2 linked regions of the Homo sapiens genome follow. The protein of the gene in region 1 purifies or fractionates together with the protein of each later gene. This does not show direct contact. Each region holds a gene or a part of one and is shown in the gene's direction. Other genes may lie near its edges.

Region 1 (12,544 bases):
TTTACCGCTGCTCAGCTCCTCTGCCAGATGAAGTCAGTGGCCAGGGAAGTAGTTGAGAACATGGGGCTCCTTGTGGGTATCTCTGATGTCCAATGTTAGGGGAAAGGAAAGTAATCCATTGACTTAAGAAAGGGAGGTTGGATAATTGCTCTATAACTTTCCTTTATCTCTATTCTGTTGTTTATTAGCATAGATACAGATGAGTTCACCTAAAGAGAAACATACAAACCATAGCAGAACACCTAATATCATAGGGTGTGGGATCAGATCATTCGTGTCTACATTCCAGCTCCAAGGCTTGCTAGCTGTGTGACCTTGGGCAAGTTGCCTAGCATCTCTGAGTCTGTTTCTTCAGCAATAAATAGGGATAATAATAGTACTTCTCAGGGTTGTCATAAGGATTAAATGAGATAAATAATCCGTGAAAAGAATGTAGTACCACACATAATACCCACCAAAAAAGCAGTACAGTACAAATGTACCAAAAGTTTGCCATTTAATAATGGATCTTCAGTTTCAAAGTTTTTTTCATCTAACTTTCCTTCCATCAACCAATAAGAATTCATTGAACACCTGCAAAAGAGTGAACCCTAAGGTGGTTACTAAAAGATACAAAGGGCCAGGCATGGTGACTCACACCTGTAATCCCAGCACATTGAGGGCCGAGGTAGGTGGATCACCTGAGGTCAGGAGTTCAAGACCAGCTTGGCCAACATGGTGAAACCCCATCTCTACTAAAATCAAAAATTAGCTGGGTGTGATGGTACACGCCTGTAATCCCAGCTACTCGGGAGGCTGAGGCAGGAGAATCACTTGAACCCAGGAAGTGGAGGCTGCAGTGAGCCAAGATCGTGCCATTGCACTCCAGCCCGGATAACAAGAATGAATCTCCATCTCCAAAAATAATAATAATTAAAAATAAATAAAAGATACAAAGGAATCAAAAGATGAACTCCCTGGCCACGAAGAGCTTGCACTCTAGGTAAGGAGGCTAAACAAATGGGAAATAACTTTCTGAAAAAGACAATGCTGGGTATGGCAACAATGCAGTGCTTCGCATGGAGTACAATTAAGAGAACAGAAGAGCACACAGTATGAACTGCACTGTCTAAAGACAGATGCAGACCCAGAAGGGACCCCTGAAATCATCCAGTCCAACCTCTTCCTTTAAAAGATGGGAAAAGTCAATCCTAGCAAGATTCAGCAACTTGTACAAGCTCAACAGCAAGTTGGTAGCAGAGCTGAAAGTAGAACCACTGGTCCCTGGGGTAAAAAAGGAAATGCAAGATGTGTGGATCAGGGAGCCCAGAGAGGAGGCTCAAGGGAAAGTAGGACTTGGTCTGGGCCTGAAGGATGGGAAGAAGATGGCTAGGAAGAGGGGAAGAAGCGGCATTTGTAACTTCCCCTCCTACCCACGAGGGCTTATTGCCCATGGATTCTCTTAGTCACACCTTGAACCTGTTAAAAGGTTAAAGGCACTTCTGTGGTCACCTTTGACCAGAAAAGTCTTTCTTTATAGCTTTCTGGTATACTCATCAATAGCAATAATGTATGGGATACAATCCTAGATCTGTAAATTCTCCTTAATGAGAAACAAGGGTAGGGATGGTACCATGTGTGTTTGGCCACGTACCTAGCTTACCGTGGCCACCCAAAGATTTTCAGTGGCCAGCTCGCACTGGTTGCTGCTTTTATGGCTTCTTCCATGGACACTTTCATTGGCTATATCCCCTTTGCTGACCTAACTTCTCACAGACATTTCTTTAAACACAGCTTTATTGAGGTATAAATGACATGCAATAAACGTCACATGTTAAAAGGATATAATTTGGCTGGGTGCGGTGGCTCACGCCTCTAATCCCAGCACTTTGGGAGGCCAAGGTAGGCAGATTGCCCAGGAGTTGGAGACCAGTCTGAGCAACTTGGTGAAACCCTGTCTCTACCAAAAATACAAAAAATTAGCCGGGCATGGTGGCATGGACCTGTAGTCCCAGCTACTCGGAAGGCTGAGATGGGAGGATCACTTGAGCTCAGAGGGGTTGAGGCTGCAGTGAGCCGTGATCACACCACTACACTCCAGCCTGGGCAACAGAGCAAGACCCTGTCTCAAAAAGGATACAATTTAACATTGTACCTGTGAAATCATCACCACAATCAAGATGAAAAATGTGTTCATCACCCACAGGAGTTTTCTCAGGCCCCTTGGTAATCTCTCCCTCCTGCTCCTTCCTGTCCCTACCTCACACCCCAGGCAACCACTAACCTTCTTTCCATCACAATAGATTAGTTTGCATTTTTAAAAATTTTATATAAATGGGATCAAAGAGTATATACTTTTTATCTGACTTATTTAGCAAAATGATTTTGCGATGCATCCATGTTATTCGGTATACCAATAGTTCGTCCCTTTTTATGGCTGAGTAGTGTTCCGTTGGCATTCATATCGCTCATCCAGAACACCAAATGGTATTGTTTTATTTATGGCAGACATCAGGGGATGAAGGGAGAACTAATCCTGTCCATCCTGGTTTATTGGAGAGGGAGAAAAAAAAAAGTGAGGAGATGGGGAATGGTGCGGAAATCTAAGTAACCACAGAAAAGAAAAACAAAAGGATTAAAGGAGCAGAGAGCAGGGCTTAGAAGTAAAGGTTAAAGGAGTCATTAAGCCTGGAAAGGAGAAAACTGAGGGATAATTGAGAGCTGTGACTTTTCTCAAATATACAAAAGGTTATTTTTAAAACAGGCAACTGAAGAAGAAATGAACAGGCTTGGCTTACGAAGAAAGAGCTTGAGGAAGTATAAGGGAAAGTCCTGAGGGGAGGCTTGACGGGATCCCAACCCGAGTGGCCGATGAGACTATTGGGTGGCAGGGGCTAGATCAATGTGGCTCCAGGGTCCAGGGCAGCCATGTGATTGTTACTAAGCTGAGATTTCTTGAGAATGGAATGACCTTTGTACTGGTAACATCATTCTTCTTGAAACACCTCTCTTCCTAGGCCAAAATCCCATGTCGTGAGTCCTCGCTCCTGAGCCGGCACTAACGCCCCTCTCTCTACCCCCCACCTAGGGACATGCCAGCCCAGGCCTGGGACCTGGTAGAGCGAATGAAAAACAGCCCCGTGAGTACAGGCCCCCAGGCCACCCCTGAAAGGTGCCCATCTCCTGCTGGCTGGGGAGGGGACAGCCCCATAAGGGTCCCTCTCACCACAGCACTTCCTGCTTTGGGCTAGCCAAAAGATCCTCGGAGAAGCAGTCCTTACCAAGGAGGCGCCTGCCCTGGCCACACTCCTAGACGCAGGCTGTGGCACCCCTCACCCCAGGGCCGGCTGCGGGAGGGCAAGGTGGAACAGGGAGTTGGCTGAGGTGGTGGCCTTGGCCTCTGACAGCTTCCTGCTTTAACCAAGAGGTGGCTTCCCAGAGCCCTATTATGTAAATGCAAGGTTCTAAAAATAGGCTTCTCATTCCAATCCAGTTCTGCCTCCTTCCCCTCACCCTGCCCCTCTGAAACTTCTCACTAGCACTTTTTTTTTTAACCGTTCAGTGTTTATGCCTAGGAATTCAGCTCCCGGTGGGATTCCTATTATGGAGGTGGCCAAGTGGAAAGCCAACTGCTTAGAGGGCCTCCCAGCCCCAACCCCGCTTCTCAGTCCACGCTGGGCTCTTCCTCCAGTCTCCTTCCCCCGACCCTAAGAACTCATCCCAGGGGCAGCTTAGGGCCTTTGCTTCTAGCTGCATCCTTTGCCTACAGCTCCCTGGAAGGCCTTCATTTGGGGGGACGTGGTAATCCCCTCGGCATTTAATGGGCCAAGGATATGTGGGACACATCCACATTCTACTTCTCCAGGGACACAACTTTCTTAAGATTTCAAGGGGAAAATAGCCCTCCCTTGTGTAAGCAGAACCCCGTCCCCCGCCAGCGCCCACCGCCAAAAAAAAAAAACATCCTCTCTGTGGAGCACCTTATCCTAGCACCAATTGAGGGCTGGGAAGCCCCACTTTGTTGCTTTTCTTTTTTTTTTTTTTTTAGACGGAGTCTCGCTCTGTCACCCAGGCTGGAGTGCAGTGGTGCGATCTCAGCTCACTGCAGCATCTGCCTCCTGGGTTCAAGTGATTCTCCTGCCTCAGCCTCCCAAGTAGCTGGGATTACAGGCACCTGCCACCAGGCCAGGCTAATTTTTGTATTTTTAGTGGAGACGGGGTTTCATCATGTTGGCCAGGCTGGTCTCGAACTCCTGACCTCAGGTGATCCACCTGCCTCAGCCTCCCAAAGTGCTGGGATTACAGGTGTGAGCCACCGTGCCTGGCCCAATTTGCTGCTTTTCTCTGTTACAGTATAAATAAGACAAAAGGCACTTGGAGGGCGGGCGGGCTGGCCCAGTAGCAACATTTGTATGTGCCTCCCACCAAGGCCTAAACTCAGGATCTTCTGTCCCCTCAGGACATCAACCTGGAGAAAGACTGGAAGCTGGTCACACTCTTCATTGGGGTCAACGACTTGTGTCATTACTGTGAGAATCCGGTAGGCCCCCGACCAACCCCATGGGGACCTGAGAAGGAAGGTGCTGACCTCTGGCAACATCCTTGCCCATCCATCCCTGGCCCTGCCCCGAGCTCCTTGCTCATGGGAACCACATTTGCCTGCTGCCCCAGGCCCTCCCTGGTTTACACATGCCAGGCAAGGCCCAGCCTTTTCTACTGCCTGAGCGACCCCTGGAAGAGCAGGTGCATTGGTTCCCCAATTCCAGAAGTAAGGCCAAGGTGGACCCACTGTAGGCACTGCTGAGGTGAGGCCTCTCTTATCCACACAAATATGACCTCTGGTACCAGATAGGGGACTAGCCATCCTCACCCCATCCCTGCCCTGTTTCATTTTGAGGAAGGGCAAAACAATGTTCTAAATGGGGTTGGATGGGTCATCACGAGTTAACCAAACCTCAGTGGTGGCCCTGGGAGCCCAAACCTGTTCCTGATGTTTCCATGGGGAAATATGTCCAGACTCACAAACTTCTGGAAGTTGTAACTTCCAAAAGTTTTTATTTTGGAATACATCTTGTTCTAAGTTGGGGACATTCTGTATTTTATTTGGCCGGGAAAAGGCAGCTGCCCAGCCTCAGAGATTGTGGTCGAATGTTTGACAGTCACAGATGGTGGTGTGGGGGAAAAGGCATTTATCACTCCTTGTGGCTCACAGAGGCCAACTACCAGAGGCTTGATGAGAAGTATCCTCCCACACACAGGAGTTGGTTTTCCAAACCTCTTCCCCTCAGTTCTCTCCCTGACCACCCACACTCTAGAGGCAGAAGTGACCCTAACTCATGGGGATTTAAGTATTGCTGTGTTCTGGACTCCGGGGATACCTGGACCCCAGAGCTGCGTGGACACTGTGGACGCTGGCGTAGGGAAATGCCCTCTACTAGTCCCAGGATGTGTGTTCTTCATGGGAACAGTCAGGTTTATACTTCCGAGAGCGTAGTTTAGTTGAAAGGGCTGGGCTGCCCCGACTAGGATTAACTCAGACTGTTTTAAAAAGAAGGAAAGGGGGAAAGGCAGAAACTCTGGGAGACACGAGGTCCCCTCTCCTCTATTTTAACTCTTCGGCATGGATTGTCTATCTTGTTCCTTTCCCCTTCTTCCCAACTCCCAGTACCCCTTCTGGTGGCTGTGGCCAGAAACTCAGCGAACAGCACTGGTCCTATGCCCATCAGTGTGCTGGAATTGAGTGCACGGTATCTCACCTGGCCTCAGCTCTTCGTCTCCAGAAAAAATAATGGGCTGCCTGAGCTCTCCCCTCCTGCCTGAGTGGTGCTGCTTTGTGGGTGCCTCAACTCCCACTTCCTGTGGACATGCTTTCTTCCATGAGTATAAGAGCTTCAGGTTACCACCCGCACCCCCACTGGTATCAGCCTGTGACACCTTCTGGGCCTGTAGCCCAGAGCCACATCTAAAAATAGAGGCCCATCTCCCTCTGCTATAAAGCAAAGCCCTGAGATTCAGCCTGCAAGGACTTACTGAGCACCTACTATGTACCTTGTTTGCATCACCCAGGATGCTGTGGACACACCTCTAAATCAGCCTCCTACTGGGGAGATGGTTCAGAGGAAGAGAACCTTACACTGAGTCACAGGGGATAGAAGTTAGGGGAACACAGGAGAGCAAAACATTTCAGGCAGTGGGACCAGCATGGACCAAAGCCCAAAGGAAAAAGGAAGTGTGGCCACCCAGGGCATGGCAAGGGGCTGGAGAAGGCTGAGGTCAGATGACGGATGGGACTGCCGAGAGCCAAGGCCAAAAAGTGGCAGGACCCAGCACTGGCAGAGTCCACTGTTGGGTCTGAGATTATGTAGAGCAGGGTGGGGGTTGGGATTGTTCATGGTGTCTAGTAGGGGACAAGGGATGATTCCTTACAGAGACTCAGCAGCAACAAGAACTGGGCTTCTCAGTTTGACCAGGACCACCGAAGCCCCTCTGTACCCACTCAGTCATTTAGCCCAGGCCCCAGAGCCCTCCTATGCTCTTGCCATTCTCTCAGAGCGGGCACCAGGGGCTAAAGAGAGTACCCTTTTTTCCTTACAGGAGGCCCACTTGGCCACGGAATATGTTCAGCACATCCAACAGGCCCTGGACATCCTCTCTGAGGAGGTAGGAGAGGGGTTACGTGTTCCTGGGTCCCGCCAGCCACCTCCCTGGGATGCATGTAGGCAGGCTGTGTTCAGTGAGATGCTCACGGAGCAGAGACCCGCCATGAGTGAGCACCTGGATGGCAGGGAGGGAGGTGGCTGTCAAGCTCCTCTGCAGGGAAAATTCTCACTTGGCCAGAGACAGGGTTGTGTGGTAGCAATGAGCTTGCCTCTGAACCAATTGGCCCAGGTTTGCGCCCAGCACTGTGGCTTCGGGCAAGTGACTTCCCTGTGTCTCAGTTTCTCAACCTATAAAGCGGGGCCACTCAAGAAGATTCAGTGAGATACTACAAGTTGCATCCCCTCTCTGGGCCTCAGTTTCTTCATTGGTAAAATTGAGGGGAGTGGGAATTGGATTGTAGATGACCCCCAGGTTCCTCCCAGCAGTAGCCAGTGCCCTAACGAAACCACCCTCCACTCCCTGCAGCTCCCAAGGGCTTTCGTCAACGTGGTGGAGGTCATGGAGCTGGCTAGCCTGTACCAGGGCCAAGGCGGGAAATGTGCCATGCTGGCAGCTCAGTAAGTGGACAGGTCACCGTCCCAAGGCAAGGGCACCTGGGGTGAGGAGGGCTTGCAGGTGCCAAAGGAGGAGACCAGTTGAGGCAGAGCCAGGCAGGCCTGCCAGAGGGTAGACATGGCTCAGGGGCTTGGACAACATCAGGAAGTACCTCTACATTTGCAAATGCCTACTGTATGCAAGGTGCCTCATTTCTCTGGACCCCCTTTTGCTTTTCTGTGAAAGGAGACAGACCAAATGATCCTTAAGGCTCCCTGACATTGTCAGTGATTGCCAAGGCAAACCTTGGCACGCTGCTCCCTGTTGAGAAGCAGCATGGGGCCATGAGCTTTCAAGGCTGCTACATCCAGCCTTGACTGTTCTGCCATTTAGGAGCTATGGGACCTTGAACAAACCACATAACCTCTATGAGCCTCTGTGTTCCTCATCTGTAAAGTGGGGGTGATGACACCTTCCCTGCAAGGTAGATGTGAGGTCAAGAGGAAACAAGGTACCTGGCCTACCAAGACTACCAAGAGCAGGGTCTTAGGAAATAGCTCTTATTCCATCCTTGATGGGGCCTGTCCTTGATAGCTGGGCTTGGAGGCAAGGTGCTAATGGGCAAGACAAGAACTCCTATCGGGGGCTGGAAGTCATTAAAGCTCTTGAACCCTGGTAGGAAGTTGCCATGTTCTGAGGGCAGAGGGCCTCCCACAGTTTGAGTGATTATTGCTATGAGAGAGGAGGTTCTCCAGGGAGCTGAGGAGTCCTACACCTGGGCTCAAATGGATTTGCTGCAAAGGTGACCAGCTGGTTCCCATTTTTGCAGGGAACCCTGCTCTCTCGCAGGGAACGGCTCCTCCAGAGTCTGTCTGTATCGTGTTCCATGTTGTCAGAGTTGCTTCCAGCCGGTTGGCCCTCCCCAGCTTTCCCACAGACTTCCCACACTGGAGCCCTGAGGGAGGGTCCTAAGCAGTTGCAGGAAGAGCTGAGAGGCCCCCGGAACTTGAGGAGCGATTCCAAACCCAGGGACAGAGCCATTGTGGCTGGTTTCCTAAACTCCAGTCTCCTGTCTACCCAGTCCTGCTCTGGAGAAATCCCAGGGACCACAGGCTTGGGAAGGAGGAAGGGGAATAGGCGTTCTGTCCACAGGGAGGTCCAGGCAACAGCTTTCCCTCTTTCTCTATGAACAATCATCCTCTGGACCTCAGGGCTCCTGAGTTAGCATTCTGTAACCTGGGTCCAAGAATCAGCCAAAGGTGTATTGTGGGGATACTTGTGTGTCACCCCCCGCCCTAGGTAAGGCAGCACAGGCTGCAGGCCCCTGGGGTAGTGGCCTGCTCTGTGTGTCAGAGCCAGCCTCCCAGGAGGACAGAGCCACAGTGCCCCAGGCAGCCTCAATACAACACTCCCTGTCTCACAGGAACAACTGCACTTGCCTCAGACACTCGCAAAGCTCCCTGGAGAAGCAAGAACTGAAGAAAGTGAACTGGAACCTCCAGGTAAGCCCTGCAGCCCTTCTCTTACTGACCCAGCTGGGGGGCCCCCTGTACTCCAAGGACTGGGAAATCGAATGCCCAGCAGGATGTGGCCAAGAGCAAGCCACTCCCTAAAAGCAGATTGCAGCCCCTGAAATACTTACCCCTGCAAATTGAACACCAAGGCCAGGGAAGGGAGTGAGAGACCCCAAAGTGGAAGCTGAGAAAATCCCCTTCTCCCAGCGGGTAGGCAGCAAGAGATTCCCAGAGTAGACTCCTTGTGGTAGGGCCCATTCCCCACCCAGAGCCATGTGTAATAATTACTACTCACTTCCTCCCCTCCCTTCATTAAAAACAAAAGGCTTAGGCCCGACACAATGGCTCACGTCTGGTGTCCCAGCTACTCAGGAGGCTGAGATGGGAGGACAGCTTGAGCCCAGGAGTTGGAGGCTGCTGTTAGCTATGATGATGCCATTGTACTCTGCCTAGACAACAGCGTGAGACCCTATCTCAAAAAAAAAAAAAAGAAAAAAAGAAAAAGGCTTAGCCCTGCCCTACTTAACTCTACCTCAAATTCTCCTTGCCCTCTCTCTGCCCCCTTCCATCTCCCCACCTCCACTCCTGCTTATGTCTCTGCCTCTATTGTTCCCTCTCAGGCTCAGGTAGCATTTCCATTCTGCAAACTGACCCTCCTTCATTCACAAGGCAAGTCTGCTTCCCTCCTCTAAGGAGCTTCCCCTGCCTGAACTTCACCCGCGGACATCTCCCCATATCACATTCAGTCTGTACTTGATGGGCCCTAAAAGCCCCAAAGGGTTCTCATGTTTTCACATCTTGGCTCATTTTTCCAGATGGATGATAAACTCCTTGAAGATAAGTACATCTAGTCTGTTCCTTTTACATTCCATGCTTGGGTACTTAAATCCAGCCACCGTGGACTCTCCTCCCGCAAAGTTCATGGGCATTTTGGGAGCTGGTGTTGAGATGCTCCCCATCTGACCTGCAGCCCCATGTTCTAATTGACCTCTTCGTGCAGTGAGAGGAGGGGAGGACTTTGGCCTATGCAATCTGGTCAGTGGCTCAGACCCAGCCTTTCAGGCAGAGGCTTTGGAATGGGACTGGGTGGAGCTGTGTAGCTAGGGAGCTTCTCCCACCAGGAGCCGCTGGGTTCAACTCATCTCTGATCCTGAGAACCAGCATAGGGCTTTGAAATGTCCGTGCCCATGAATGGGTGGAGAATAAAAGTATGTTTGCATCCCACTAGAGTAGCCCCTTAAAGTCACTGTCCTTTAGGGTGAGTTGACTCCCGTCAACAACCAATCCAAGGCAGCAGGACTGGACCCTGTCTGTGCAGCCTTGCCAGGAGGGTTGAGCAGCTTCTCTCTCTGTCCCCAGCATGGCATCTCCAGTTTCTCCTACTGGCACCAATACACACAGCGTGAGGACTTTGCGGTTGTGGTGCAGCCTTTCTTCCAAAACACACTCACCCCACTGAACGAGGTGAGCTGCAGGTATTTTAGGGAGGCTCACGTATGGGGGCCTTATCACAGACGATGGATGTATTTCCTTCTCTAAGTGGGCTTTTTTTTTTTTTAACCATCTCTCTCCAAGAGGATTCCTGAGGGTGGCTTTTTCCACATTACCTCCTTTTTGTGGGGGCTGGGCTGTGATTGGAACTCAGATGTACTTTGAAAGGAAATCAATAGTGACTAAGCTCCCAGGCCTGGCCCTGATGTTTTCTGGATTGGGATAGAATGGAAAGCTTCCTAAAAATGTTACTCTTTTCAACTCTTAGGATAGGGGTGCTGAAAGAAAAGGGAGAGACTATGGGTGGGTCCAATTCTTGTCTGTTTAAAAAGAAAATTCCGGCCGGGTGCAGTGGCTCATGCCTGTAATCTCAGCCTTTGGGAAGCCAAGGCGGTTGAATCACGAGGTTAGGAGTTTGAGACCAGCCTGGCCAACATGGTGAAACCCCGTTTCTACTAAAAATACAAAAAGTTAGCTGGGCGTGATGGCAGGCACCTGTAATCCCAGGTACTCGGGAGGCAGAAGTTGCAGTGAGCTGAGATTATGCCACTGCACTCCAGCCTGGCTGACAGTGCGAAACTCCGTCTCAAAAAAAAAGAAAAAAGAAAAAAAGAAATTCTAAATTCTGGGAGTTTTTCCATCAGTATCTGAGCAAGTTGGCAGGAAAGTTGAAAGAATGAAAGGAGACATGCCCAGGGCACCTGCTGGGAGAGTGAGTGGGGCTCAGGTAGCAGAGCCCTTTCCCAGGATGATAACCTCCTTGCCGTTGGTTGCAGAGAGGGGACACTGACCTCACCTTCTTCTCCGAGGACTGTTTTCACTTCTCAGACCGCGGGCATGCCGAGATGGCCATCGCACTCTGGAACAACATGGTGAGCAGCCAAGGGCCTGGTGGGCCTTGTCAAGGGGGGATCTAAGGATATTGACACTCTGTCTCACAATGGCAAAACTACTGGAGACATGGCTCCTTTCTCCCCAAAGCCCAAAGTGGCAGCACACCTTATTGGTCCTGATAGATTAATTCCAAAGGGAAAATACCCTATATTTATCCAACACCCTTTGAAAGTTATACAAACACACACTCACACAACTTTATTCTTTGTTCCTTCAGCAATGCCCAGGTACTGCGAGGGGATCCCTTTGTAATCAGATAGGTTGGCTAGATGAAAATACCAACTTCTACCTCGTACTGTGTGACCTTGGGCAAACGATCTCTCTGGCCACCTGTATCAACATCTATAAAACAGTGAAAACAAGACAGGTCTCAGACAACGCATTGAGATCATGTGTACATGGCACCTAGCACAATAGTTAGCACTCAGCAAATGTCACCACCATCAGCCTTCCAAGCACTCCGGGCTCAACTCATACCCAACTCATTTCTCTAAACATCGAAAAGTGGAGATCCACACAGCCTGTTTTCCGAGGCTGATACCTATTCCAGTCCTTTCTGATGGGAAGAAGGGACCTTATGAAATGAACATACAGTCTGGGGGTCTTTCAGGGACACCTGCCTGGTGCTTCCACTCTGCCTTCTGTGGCTGGCCACCAGCAACTGAATGGTTTCCGCACAGCACTTGACCTGTCACCCCCAACAACTGGATCCTCTTGCACGGAGCAAATGAAATGCCTTCCCAACCCAATGGTTTCTTTTAATCCAGGCTCAGTGGGTAACACAATCCCCACCCCAACCTGTATGTTCCCTCCTTTGTCCTATGACAACTAAACAAGCTACATTCCAGCTCCTTTTATCACAGTTTCAGGCCCATAGTGTCTCTGCCAACCACCGCTGTGCAAACGTTCCCACCCCTGTCAGCTCATCCAGTATGTCCAGCATCCCACTCGGCTGACTCACAATATTGACTTTCTCCTTAGCTATACCATCTCCTCCTCTCTAGCAACCTCTTCTTTTAAGAACAGCATGTAAACTGGCTTTATCCTTGGCCTAGTTAATGGCAGACTCAGCTTATGTCGACTTCCATTGTCAGGGGGTTTTCCTCCTGTGGACATCACGTACCTGCCCACTCCAAGAACTTCTATTGTACTCTTTCAGCCCAAGACTCCGGATTGTAACCAAAATGTCTTTGAGTTTGCCCCACGATTTTTAAATCAGTTTATATGGTATAATTCCTGTTTCTTTTGTGGATTTTGTTTTGAAGGCGGTTGTCCTTCACTGGCTGAATCATGTGACTTTATTCCTTTGTAAAAATCTTCCCAAAGAAAGGGTACCTATTCCCTGTTCCTTTTCCCCTGAGACCTCAGGGGATTCCACAGATGCCCTTGGCCCTTCCTTCCCAGTTTTTTCATCAAGGTATGGCCTTCCTACCAGGTGGCACTCCAAGTCTGCTTAAATCTGGGACCCTCCA
Region 2 (12,544 bases), on another chromosome or scaffold:
TTTAGAGTGTATTTATTGTTTTGTTTTTTGTTTTTGACATGGAGCTTCCATGCCCGGCCCATCCTAAATTTTTATATATTAGTTTCCCATAAATTTTCTGTCATTCTCTTAATCTTATCTATTCTGTTCTAACCCTTTAATATAATTTTTTTTTTTTTTGGGGACAGAGTCTTGCTCTTGTTGCCCAGGCTGGAGTGCAGTGGCGCGATCTCAGCTCACTGAAACCTCTGCCTCCCAGGTTTAAGTGATTCTCCTGCCTCAGCCTCCCAAGTAGCTGGAATTACAGGCACTGCCACTTATGCCCAGCTAATTTTTTGTATTTTTAGTAGAGACAGGCTTTCACCATGTTGGTCAGGCTGGTCTCGAACTCCTGACCTCAGGTGATCCACCTGCCTTGGCCTCCCAAAGTGCTGGGATTACAGGCTCATGCCTGGCCCAATATTTTTGTTTAATTATTTTTTCTAGACTCTAGTTTTGTATATCTGAGCCTGTACTAGGGCTTTAAGATATGTAAAATCAAGGACAAATTGAATGGAGATAGAATCTATAAAATGTGCTTTTTCCTCTCAATGTTTTATTCTTCCAAATCACTCTTGCAGGTCATTATTTCTAGATTTAAATTTTACTTCTTCCTTCTGAGGGGCATAGACAGAAGAGAAGTAAGGTGTGTTACACAATTAGATCTTATTGAAAAAAATTATAGCATGATAGGAATTTTATTAATAGTACTGTATCATTACTTTATACCTCTTGATCTTTTGTTTTTATTAATACTAATAATTGGCACCATTGATTTGACAATTAATAGGCGTATTCAGCCTCTTCCCCATCCCAGCCCATTTTAAGAGAGTTAAAATGCTATATTAGCATTTTTTTTTTGTTTTTTGAGGCGGAGTCTTGCTCTGTTGCCTAGGCTGGAGTGCAGTGGCATGACCTTGGCTCACTGCAACGTCTTCCTCCCAGGTTCAAGCGATTCACCATCTCGGCCTCCCAGGTAGCGGGGACCACAAGTGTCCACCACCATGCCTGGCTAATTTTTGTATTTTTAGTAAAGACGAGGTTTCACCATGCTGGCCAGGCTGGTCTCAAACTCCCTACCTCAGGTGATCTGCCCGCCTTGGCCTCCCAAAGTGCTAGGATTACGGACATGAGCCACTGTGCCTGGCCTGTATTAGCATTTTAAATGCTTTTTATACTTTGCATTTTTCCCAAATTTATTTGACCTCACATCCCTTTTTATGGGGAGTATAAAAAAGATATATGTACATTTCACAAGAAATATGTTTCACAGAACACAATTTGAGAAATGCTACTTAATTATAATTTTTAACTGATAAATATTTAGTATAAGGCTAACAGTTCCTCTAATAATATTGAGCTGCTTTTTTGGAAGTATTTTTAAACCCTAAAAATATAAATAAACAATGTTTAATGTAGGAAAATTAAAAAATACCATAAGCCACAACACCTCTCAATAATTGTACTCCCTGTGTTAGTCCTTTCTTATATTGAATCTCAGCTGGAGAAACTGATGCTGGGTTAGTTTTGGGTCTAAATCTTCTTTCCTCCCTCCCTTCCTCCCCTTTCCCCTTTCCTTTCCTTCCTTCTTTCTTTTTTTTTTTTTTTTTGAGATGGAGTCTTGCTCTGTTGCCCAGGCTGGAGTGCAGTGGCACTATCTCGGCTCACTGCAAGCTCCGCCTCCCAGGTTCACGCCATTCTCCTGCCTCAGCCTCCCGAGAAGCTGGGACTACAGGCGCCCACCACCACGCCTGGCTAATTTTTTTTTTGTATTTTTAGTAGAGACGGGGTTTCACCGTGTTAGCCAGGATGGTCTCGATCTCCTGACCTCGTGATCCGCCCGCCTCGGTCTCCCAAAGTGCTGGGATTACAGGCATGAGCCACCGCGCCCAGCCCTCCTTCTTTCTTTCCTTTTTTTTCTTTTTCTTTTTTTTTTTTTCTGAGATGGGATCTCACTTTGTTGCCCAGGCAGGATCACGGCCCATTGCAGCCTTGACCTCCTGGGCCCAGGCAATCCTTCCACCTCAGCCTTCCAAGTAGCTAGGACCATAGGCCTGCACCACCATGTCTGGCTAAGTTTTTCTTTTTCTTTTCTTTTTTTTTTTTTTGGGAGAGACGGGCTCCCTCTGTTGCCCAGGCTAGTCTCAAACTCCCGAGCTCAAGCAATCCTTCTGCCTTGGCCTCCCAAAGTTCTGGGATTATAGGCGTGAGCCATCGCTCCTGGCCATGGGTCTAACTTCTTTTTTTTTTTTTGGAGATGGAGACTTGCTCTGTCGCCCAGGCTGGAGTGCAGTGGTGTGATCTTGGCTCACTGCAGCCTCCGCTTCCCAGGTTCAAGTGATTCTCCTGCTTCAGCCTCCCAAGTAGCTGGGATTACAGGCATCTGCCACCATGCTTGGCTAATTCTTGTATTTTTAGTAGAGATGGGGTTTCACCATGTTGGCCAGGCTGGTCTCGAACCTGACCTCAAGTGATCCGCCCACCTCAGCCTCCCAAAGTGCTGGGATTACAGGTATGAGTCACCGCACCTGGCCCATGAGTCTAAATCTTAAAAGAGCAATGTAGCTTCCTGTTTGTGCCCTTTGTAGCCCTGATCTCAATATGGAGTCAGGCTACAGCAATGGAGAGACTATTTGTTGAGGGCAAGGCCCTGAGGCTAACTTGTTTTGCTCCCTGTTTTATCTCCCTATTGTCTAGATCAGAGACTGGCCAATAGTATTTGTAGAATGAATTAATGAGTGAATAAGTACATGTGGAGTATTAGGGATGCCATTTGACTTTTTACTCATCATGGCTTGCTCAAGTCATCCATTTCCTACTTGATACTACTCAAGACAGATGGAATGAAAATGGCTTGTTTTGTTGATGAGCAATTTTGGTAGTGGTGATATTGTTATTGACTCTTTCTGAAAGTTAAGTTTTAAATGGAAAATTAAACCAAAGTTATATTGGGGAAGAAAAAGAATTTTTTTTCTGTTTTTATTGTAAAAGCTGCTTTTAAAAAGTCTGTGATACTGGCTGGGCACAGTGGTTCATGCCTATAATCCCAGCACTTTGGGCGGAAGGCAGGAGGATAGCTTGAACCCAGGAGTTAAGGACCAATCTAGGCCATATAGGGAGACTCTGTCTCTACAAAAAATTTAAAAAGTTAGCTGGTCATGATGGTATGCACCTGTTGTCCCAGGTATGTGTGGGAGGTGGAAGGATTGCTTGAGCCCAGGGCTGCAGTGAGCCACGATCATGCCACTGCACTTCAGCCTGGGCAACAGAGCGAGACCCTGACTCAAAAAAAGAAAAGTCTATAATGCCCATTATGCCTATCTTCTGTAGTGTTATACTATGGGAAAATGTGGATCTTCTTTCAGTATCTTGGTTATGTCTTAAGTTGATGGTGGTAATTTTTAACACTAAATTTGCCATAGATTATATATTATATGTGCATATTTTTACCTTTTCACACTTTTAACCTTGTATATATTAGGAATGCAATTAAGTTTTTATTTTAAAATGATTACATTGTTTAATTTTATAGGTCCATTCAAAAGCTTGGTGAATTAAATATTGGAATGGATGGCCTTGGTAATGAGGTATCAGCACTCAACCAGCAATGTAATGGGAGCAAAGGCAATGGATCTAATGGTTCTTCTGTGACTAGTTTTACTACACCACCCCAAGACTCTAGTCAGAGATTAACACATGATGCTTCAAATATTCATACAAGCACTCCTCGTAATCCTGGATCAACAAATCACATACCTTTTCTGGAGGAATCACCTTGTGGAAGCCAAATGTAAGTGCTTGACTTTGTAAAACTTGGAAATATTAACTTACTACTAATGGTTAGAAGGTTGAACTTGTCTTTGGAGCCTTATAAATAAAAGTTTTTAGAGCTTACTGCCTACCAATTTTTTTTCCTAATCTGCCTTCATTTGTCTATATTCTCTTCTACCAACTTCTAAGTCTCTTTATAGTTTCCATTTTCCTTCTATTTTTCTTTTTGCTTCCTGACTACCACCAAGGCAATTATATTTTTTATAAGCCATCCTACTCAAAGAACCTACAGTTTTAGGATCTCTAAATCTTGATTTTCTTTTTTCTTCAGTTGGCATCTTTGAACAAATAATCTTAAAATTCAGACTTTCAGGGCATAGAAAGATGTTTTACAATCTGGTGGAATGATTACAGCTGCAGTGTTGGCTGCTTTGGCAATTACAGCAGTGGAAGACTGCATATTTACATTTTCACTATTCAGGGAAAATTTTTATCTTGCTATCATTAGTATACAAGTGTTAATTTATGCAATGGGAATAGTTAAGGAGCATTTTCTATATTCTTAGCATAAAACACTTTTCAGGGTGGTTCATTAAAAAATGTATAAGATGAGATTCCCAGCTTTTTGGCTGAGATTAAGTACAAAAATGTATAACTTGCTTTTGGCACTTGGATGCTTATAGGAATTCACTTTATAAATAATTAGTGTCAAAAACCTAGTTTTATTTCAGAGCATAAATTCAATTTTTGATTCTTTTCTGAATTTTTATTTTTTTACTATTTGCTTTTTTATTACAGCTTTCATAATAGTTGTTTTGAGTACTTTCAAAACAAGAATTCAGATTTTAAAATTTAATTTTTGTTTTTGTCCATGTAATATACATACATGGTTTCAAAAGACAAATAGTACTTCAAGGCTTAAAATAAAACCCATCTTTGTCCATGGTTTTATTTCTTATTGGCTGCCATTTTCAACCCATTTGGCTGTTTCTCTTGATATATATACATACAATTTTTTTTTAAGATGGGATCTCACTATGTTGCCTAGGCTGGTCTCAAATTCCTGGGCTTAAGTGATCCTCCTACCTCAGCCTCCCAAAGTCCTGGGATTACAGGAGTGAACCACCACACCCAGCCTTTTGCTATATATTTCCACATTTCTGAAAAACATACTTCTATTACTGTTTTGTTTTGTTTTTTTGAGATGGAGTTTTGCTCTTGTTGCCCGGGCTGGAATGCAGTGGTGTAATCTCAGCTCACTGCAACCTCTGCCTCCCAGGTTCAAACAATTCTCCTGCCTCAGCCTCCTGAGTAGCTGGGATTACTGGCATGTGCCACCATGTCCAGCTAATGTTTTGTATTTTTGGTAGAGACAGGGTTTCACCATGTTGGCCAGGCTGGTCTCGAACTCCTGACCTCATGATTCGCTCACCTCGGCCTCCCAAAGTGCTGGAGTTACAGGCATGAGCCACCGCACCCGGCCTCTATTACTGTTTTTGCTATCTGTTGATTCTCTACCATACTCCTCATACATAGCACCCTCACTTTGTCTATCCCTTATTTTCAGTATATATCAATTTTTGTTTAAATCAGTATCAGTGTGATTTTGTTTAAATCAGTATCACATTACTATGACCTTGTAAATGTTATTTACAACTGGGTCATGTAGTGCCATATGATTATATTTCTTTTTCATATAGCTTCTTGTTTTTCCTGGAGACAGTAATTGCCTCAAGTTGGTGTTCATGTGTCTGTACATGATGAGTTTTCTTAATATTTATCACTAAACTATCTGTAAGTGCTTTGACAGAATTATAAAATCATAAAACTTCTCTCATTATTGTAAAAAGTGTCAGAAATTTCTCTATTCCATTTTTTCCCCTTGGGAGATGTCCCTCCAGGATCACTCCTGCTTCACTTTATATTTACTGCTTTTTGATCACTTTATGTAGGTCTAGATAGAATCCTGGGACTTTCCTCACTGTTCTGCTGGGATTTCCTTTGCCTCATCTCTTTATTAGATTCCCTGTTTTTAGCATCTCACAGTTTCCTGAAAAGGGGTGCCTTAGAGGTGAAGTTTCTGAGACCTTGCATGTCTAAAAATGTGTTTGCTTTATTTTTCACCTTTTTTGTTAGTATAGCTGGGTATAGAATTCTAGGATGAAAATCATTCCTCAGTATTTCAAAAGCATTGCTACATGATCTTCCAGTTTTAGTGTTCTGATTAAAAAGTCTGATGCCATCTTGATTCCTCATTGTCTTTTTTTTTTTTTGAGACAGTGTCTCACTTTGGCTCCCAGGCTGGAGTGCAGTGGCGCAATCTTGGCTCACTGCAACCCCCGGCCTCCTGGGTTCAAGTGATTCTTGTGCCTAAGCTACCCTACTAGCTGGGACTACAGGTACATACCACCACACCCAACTAATTTTTGTATTTTTAGTAGAGATGGAGTTTCACCATGTTTACCATGTTGGCGAGGCTGGTTGATTCCTCATTCTTTGGGTGAGGCCTATTGCTCCTTCTACTCTGGAATTTTTCAGGTTCTTCTCTTCCCTGATAGTCTGAAACTTCATGATGATATAGAAGATAGACCTTAGAGTGATTCTATTTTTCCTTATTCTTCTGGGTATTTCATGGGCCCTTTTAAGTTGGAAACTTAAGTTCTAGGAAATTAAAAAAATATTATTTAGCAATTTCCTCACCTCTATTTTCTATGGATTTACTTTTTTTTTTCCTTTTAATTACATTTATTTTAATGCTGAATTTACTCCCGTGCCATAAGTTTTTGTTTCTTCAGTTTCTTCTGGGATATCCTTTTCTTCTGGGCAACCTCCTCTTCTGGTTTAGGAACAATCTGTTCCTTTTCCGTAAGGATCATCTCAATGTGGCAGGGAGAGCTCATGTATGGGTTAATCCGACCATGAGCTCTGTAGGTCCGGCGGCGCATCTTAGGTGCTTTGTTCACTTGGATATGCTCAATGACCAGAGAATCTACATCTAAACCCTTAAGTTCAGCATTACTCTCTGTGTTTTTAAGCATGTGCAGCAAAAATTCAGCACTCTTTTTGGGCCACCGACCTTGTGTCCAGCCCCACTGCTTGGCCTGCGCACACCTGCCAACTCCACCATTGTAACGTCGGAATGGTACACACTGTTTCTGTAAAGTGACATCTTTCAGATACTTCGTGGCTTTTCGTATATGCATACCCTTGATGGCCTGAGCAGTTTCACGAGTGTTCTTAAAGTGAACACGAAGATTGGAACCTCTTGATTTGCATGATTCCGTGGGGTTCTCCGGGTCAAGTGAATAGCGAACCATTTTCACAGATTACCTCAGGCTGCTTCGGATTTACTTTTTTCTACCATCATATTTTAATTTTCTAAGAGGTCTTTCTTATTATCTAATTTCTTTTCCTTTTTAAAAAATAGATCTTGCTCTTGTTTCCTTATTAATCTGTTATTTCCTCTTATATCTAAGGATTTAAATTACATTTTTGTAGCTTTTGTTCCCTAAATTGCCTCTCTTCTCCCAAGTTCATTTTTCTGTTGATTTTAGTCTCTACCTTTTATCTCGGCTTTTTTCAGGTATCTAGAAAGCTTTGGCTGGCCGTAAACAGTGAGACATTAAAACAAAAGCTGGCTGGGTGTGGTGACTCACACCTGTAATCCCAGCAATCTGGGAGGTTGAGGTGGGAGGATTGCTTGAGCCCAGGAGTTCGAGAGCAGCCTGGGCAACATAGGGAGACCCCGTCTCTATTATATTTTATAATATTAAATAAAAATTTTAAAAGCTGATTGGAAGGAAGGGCTACATATGTGGGTGGATCTGTCTGCTTGTTGGCCTCACAAAAATTGATTAAGAGGAAACATAGTTTTACTAAGGTACCCTAAACTGTAAGTTTCTGATATTTTTTTCTCTTGGGCCAGATAATTTTCCTGAAGAGCATTCTCCAGTGTCCTGTCTGGGGTTGGATTTAAGCATAGCAAACAGGATTCTGGAACTAAGCAAGGGAAGGGTACTTGACATCTCACTATAAAATATGTGGACTTTGACTTAATTTTCTTTCCAGAATGGCTTTTCATCTCCTCCTTACAACTGTCATTGGTGCCACTGAATCCAGAGCTTATTTTAATAAATGTCTCCAGAGAGTAACTTTGGAGTCAGCTAGGATTGTTTGCTAAAAAGAAAAATTAGTGTTTGAAAGGGTAAATTAATTTAGTTTCTATTTTGATACATGGAGTAAACTTTACTTGAATTTCTACTCCCACAGCTCTTCAGAACATTCGGTCATTAAGCCACCTCTTGGAGATTCTCCAGGGAGTCTTTCAAGGTCGAAAGGGGAAGAGGTAATACTTTGGGGAAGGAAGTTTTATTGTTTTCATATGCACCTGTAAATTTTGCTAAGAAATTTTCAATTCAAAGAAAGAACCATTTTAGTCAGACGTGGTGGTGTACAGTACCCAGGAGGCCGAGGCAGAAGAATGTCTTGAGCCCAGAAGTTTGAGATTGTAGAGTACTAGAATCGCACCTGTGGATAGCCGTTGCACCACTCCAACCTGGGCAACAGAGTGAGACCTCGTGTCTTAAAAAAAAAAAAACAAAAAAAAACCCCACAAACTTTTACTGCTAATGTTGGTATTTATCTCGAGGCTCAAGGCAGTTGAGCTCTCAGTGGTGTAACTGAAGAGGGAGCCTTAGAAAGCACAGTTGGACACGTGGGAGTGTTCATATTAATGGCCTAGTAGTGGCCTTGGGACATGAATTGAGGCTCTGTGTTATTCTCTGAACCCTATGGTTAATTTCATTATTGGTATCTCTTTGGGCTTCTCATCGGTACACCTTTTTTTTTGCTTTGGAAGCAAACATCCTTTCCTAGCTAGTATACAGCTTCACTCTATCTTACTTTTCCTAGTTCAGATTTTAACCCCATAAACAAAGGTGTTAATTTGAGATGCTTTTAGGGATGAAATAGATAACATAAATTAATAAAATTGACCATTTTTATGATAAGCACAAAGGAATATTTGTCCCTTGCAAAAGAAATATGCAAGTCCAGTGTTTCCAATTCCTTTGATTTAAAAAAAAATATTAGGCCAGGCATGGTGGCTCACACCTGTAATCCCAGCACTTTGGGAGGCTGAGGCAGTTGGATCATCTGAGGTCGGGAGCTCAAGACCAACCTGGCCAACATGGCAAAACCCCGTCTCTACTAAAAATACAAAAATTAGCCAGGCATAGTGGTTCACGCCTGTAATGCTAGCCACTTGGGAGGCTGAGGCACGAGAATTGCTTTAACCCAGGAGGCAGAGGTTGCAGTGAGCCAAGATCGCGCCATTGTACTCCAGCCTGGGGGACAGAGCAAGACTCTGTCTCCAAAAAATATATGTATGTATATATATTAATAGAGACATGGTGTGACTACGTCACCCAGGCTGGTCTCAAATTCCTGGGCTCAAGCAATCCTCCCACCTCGACCTCCCAAAATGCCAGGATTACAGGTGGGAGGCACTGCACCTGACCTGATTTTCAAGAAAAGCTAGAAATCTAGATTTTTATGTGAAATCACCTAGTTTTTTAAATGACAACAAATTTAAAAAAATTTTAAGGCTGGATGCAGTGGCTCACTCCTGTAATCCCAACACTTGGGAGGTCAAGGCAGGTGGATCACCTGAGGTCAGGAGTTTGAGACCAGCCTGGCCAACATGGCGAAACCCAATCTCTTCTAAAAATACAAAAAATTAGCTGAGTGTGATGGCGGGTGCCTGTAATCCCAGCTACTTGGGAGGCTGAGGCAGGAGAATCGCTTGAACCTGGGAGGCAGAGGTTGCAATGAGCCAAGATTATGCCATTTCACTCCAGCCTAGGCAACAAGAGCAAAACTCTGTCTCAAAAAAAATTTAAAACACTCTGGAGGACAGCAAATAAAATCAGTTTGTGTGGCTTCTGCTATAAAGCAATCTTTAGTAATTTTTGATGTGCTATAGGCCATTTAGTTAATTAGTCGTTTTTCCTCCCTTTTTCTCTTATCTACCCCATGCTATTATATAATTTTGCAAACAGTCACATTCCCTGTGTATGGATTATTGGAAAATGCAACATTTCTAGTCAAATTCATACAAATAATATCAGAATTCAATTCACTTACATAGGACATACATAGCGTAACACATCAGGTTTGCCCCCCTACTCCTGCAAGGAGGATGTATTGCATGAATAAAGGCTTAGGTAGAGAGAGGCATAGTCTTTTCATTGCTGTAGTCATTATGGGTCCTAGACCTCTCAGAATACATCCAGAGCTGAAGTGATTTTCCTTTGTGTGTGTACTTGACATTCATACTTCTCAAAGCCGGGGTTTGGTTGAGTCTGACCATACCTAGTGTAGAGGTTCCTGCACCATGTCCAGTCAGTCCTGGTCAGGGTAACACGGTGGTTTCAAATGACATCAGTAGTAGGTTCACCAAAGCTTTTATACAGAACTGCTTCAGCATCTCTCTTCAGAAGAGAGATCTGGATGGACAGGTTGACAGTTTAAAGTAAAAATGAGGCTAGGCGTGGTGGCTCACACCTGTAATCCCAGCACTTTGGGTGGCTGAGGTGGCAGATCACTTGAGCTCAGGGGTTCGAGACCAGTCTGGCCAACATGGTGAAACCCCATCTCTACTAAAAATACAAAAATTAGCCGGGTGTGGTGGTGCATGCCTATAATCCCAGCTACTTGGGAGGCTGAGGCAGGAGAATCGCTTGAACTTGGGAGGCAGAGGTTGCGGTGAATCAAGATTGCGCCACCGCACTCCAGCCTGAGCAGTAGAGCGATACTCCATCTCAAAAAAAAAAAGTAGAAATGAAACATTCAAATGTTTCCATTAAAATTATTTTTACAGTTTTAAAGGGATGTTTGTTTATTTATTTATTTAATTTGAGACAGAATCTTGCTCTGTTGCCCAGGCTGGAGTGCAGTGGTGCGATCTCAGCTCACTGCAGCTTTGACCTCCCAGGCTCAAGTGATCCCCCCACCCCAGCGCCCTGAGTAGCTGTGACTACGGGCATGCGCCACCACACCCGGCTAATTTTTGTATTATTTTTCTTTTTTTTGGTAGAGATGGGTTTTCATCATGTTGCCCAGGCTGTTAAAGGGATATTTTATAACTTCAGCTTGAAATACTGAAATATTCATTGATAGAGATAATGGTAAACATTTTTTCTTAAGCAGATTAATAATCCTTTATACTTCCTTCATTTAGAAACACAAATGAAACTCTATTTGTTAGAACTTCTAGTGGGCTTTTTTTTTTTTCTTAATAGTTAAAGAGAACTTAATATAGGAATGCATACTTATTCTTTCCTTCCTTCTTGGTGCCCCGCCCCTCCCCCCTTCCTATCTCCCCCTCCCTGACAGGTGTTGCCCAGGCTCACTATAGCCTCAACCTCCCAGACTCAATCGATCCTCCCACCTCAGCCTCCCAAGTAGCTGAGACTACAGGTGCATACCACCACAGCCGTCTAAAATTTTTTTTTTTTTTCATTTTTATAGAGATGGGGTTTAGCCATGTTGCACAGCCTGGTTTCAAACTCCTGGGCTCAAGCAATATGCCCAACTCGGACTCACAAAGTGCTGGGATTATAGGCATGAGCCACCGTGCCTGGCCCGTATTTATTCTTACATTTTGTCTTAATAATTGAAGAAAAACTTGAGTGTTTATGAACTGAGCTTAGTTTAGCAATGAGTAATGAAAAATAGAAAAATTAGGGAATTTGAATATGCTACTTAATATATGGAGACTGCTGTCAGAAAAACTTCATGTAATCATATGTATTTAAAAACAATTGGCTGGAACCAGGTGCGGTGGCTCATGCCTGTAATCCCAGCACTTTGGGAGACTGAGGCAAGCAGATCACTTCAGGTCAGGAGTTTGAGACCAGCCTGGCCAACACAGTGAAACCCTGTCTCTACTAAAAATTCAAAAATTAGTCAAGCATGGTGGTGGGTACCTGTAATCACAGTTGCTCAGGAGGCTGAGGCAGGAGAATCACTTGAACCTGGGAGGCAGAGGTTGCAGTGAGCCAAGATCACGCCACTGCACTCCAGCCTGGGCAACAGAGCAAGACTCCATCTCAAAAACAAACAAAACAAAACAAAACAAACAATTGGCTGGTGCGGTGGCTCACACCTGTAATCCCAGCACTTTGAGAGGCCGTGGTGGGCAGATTGCTTGAGCCCAGAAGTTCAAGACCAGCCTGGGCAACATGGCGAAACTCCATCTCTATTTTTTTTTAATTAAAAAAATTAAAACTTTTTAAAAAAGGAAAGCAATAATGCTGCACTTTAAAAGAATCATCTAAAGAATACAGAAATGGCCCATGGACATGGACGTTAACATGAACATAGTAAAATGGAATTTCCAGATTATAAACAATGGAAGATAGAAGAAACACCATTAGAAACTATCCAGGAGAAGCTGGCTGCAGGAGGGCTAAGGGATCTATGGGGCTGTAATGAAGCTTAGAGAAACATGGGTGACTTTGCAAACAATGTTTCCTCTGATGGTGCATTATTAAAAGGATTCAAAGATTTGCTGCATTTGTGGTAGCTGTAGGGGTTTAATATTACCTGGTGTCCCAGAGTAAAGATAAGAAGCATCACTGATGATAATACCTGGAAGTATCTTAGTGGTTTCTTAACTCTCCAAAATAAGATTTCTTCACTGTAGCCTACTTGTCTGTGTGTTTGCCTCTTAAAGGATATTAGTAAGATTTAA

What was found.
Region 2: the proteins of PLB1 (region 1) and WDR47 purify together in Homo sapiens (affinity purification with mass spectrometry; 2 studies listed by BioGRID and IntAct, with this or other methods). This does not show direct contact.

What each region holds. Positions count from the first base shown.
Region 1 is NC_000002.12:28,621,990-28,634,533, forward strand, and holds part of PLB1 (phospholipase B1, membrane-associated isoform 1 precursor), read left to right. Parts: intron 1-3,067; coding exon 3,068-3,119; intron 3,120-4,438; coding exon 4,439-4,519; intron 4,520-6,573; coding exon 6,574-6,639; intron 6,640-7,104; coding exon 7,105-7,196; intron 7,197-8,596; coding exon 8,597-8,675; intron 8,676-10,046; coding exon 10,047-10,151; intron 10,152-10,954; coding exon 10,955-11,050; intron 11,051-12,544. UniProt on the Homo sapiens protein: Calcium-independent membrane-associated phospholipase that catalyzes complete diacylation of phospholipids by hydrolyzing both sn-1 and sn-2 fatty acyl chains attached to the glycerol backbone (phospholipase B activity).
Region 2 is NC_000001.11:108,986,844-108,999,387, reverse strand, and holds part of WDR47 (WD repeat-containing protein 47), read left to right. Parts: intron 1-3,550; coding exon 3,551-3,808; intron 3,809-8,058; coding exon 8,059-8,134; intron 8,135-12,047; exon of another isoform or gene 12,048-12,544.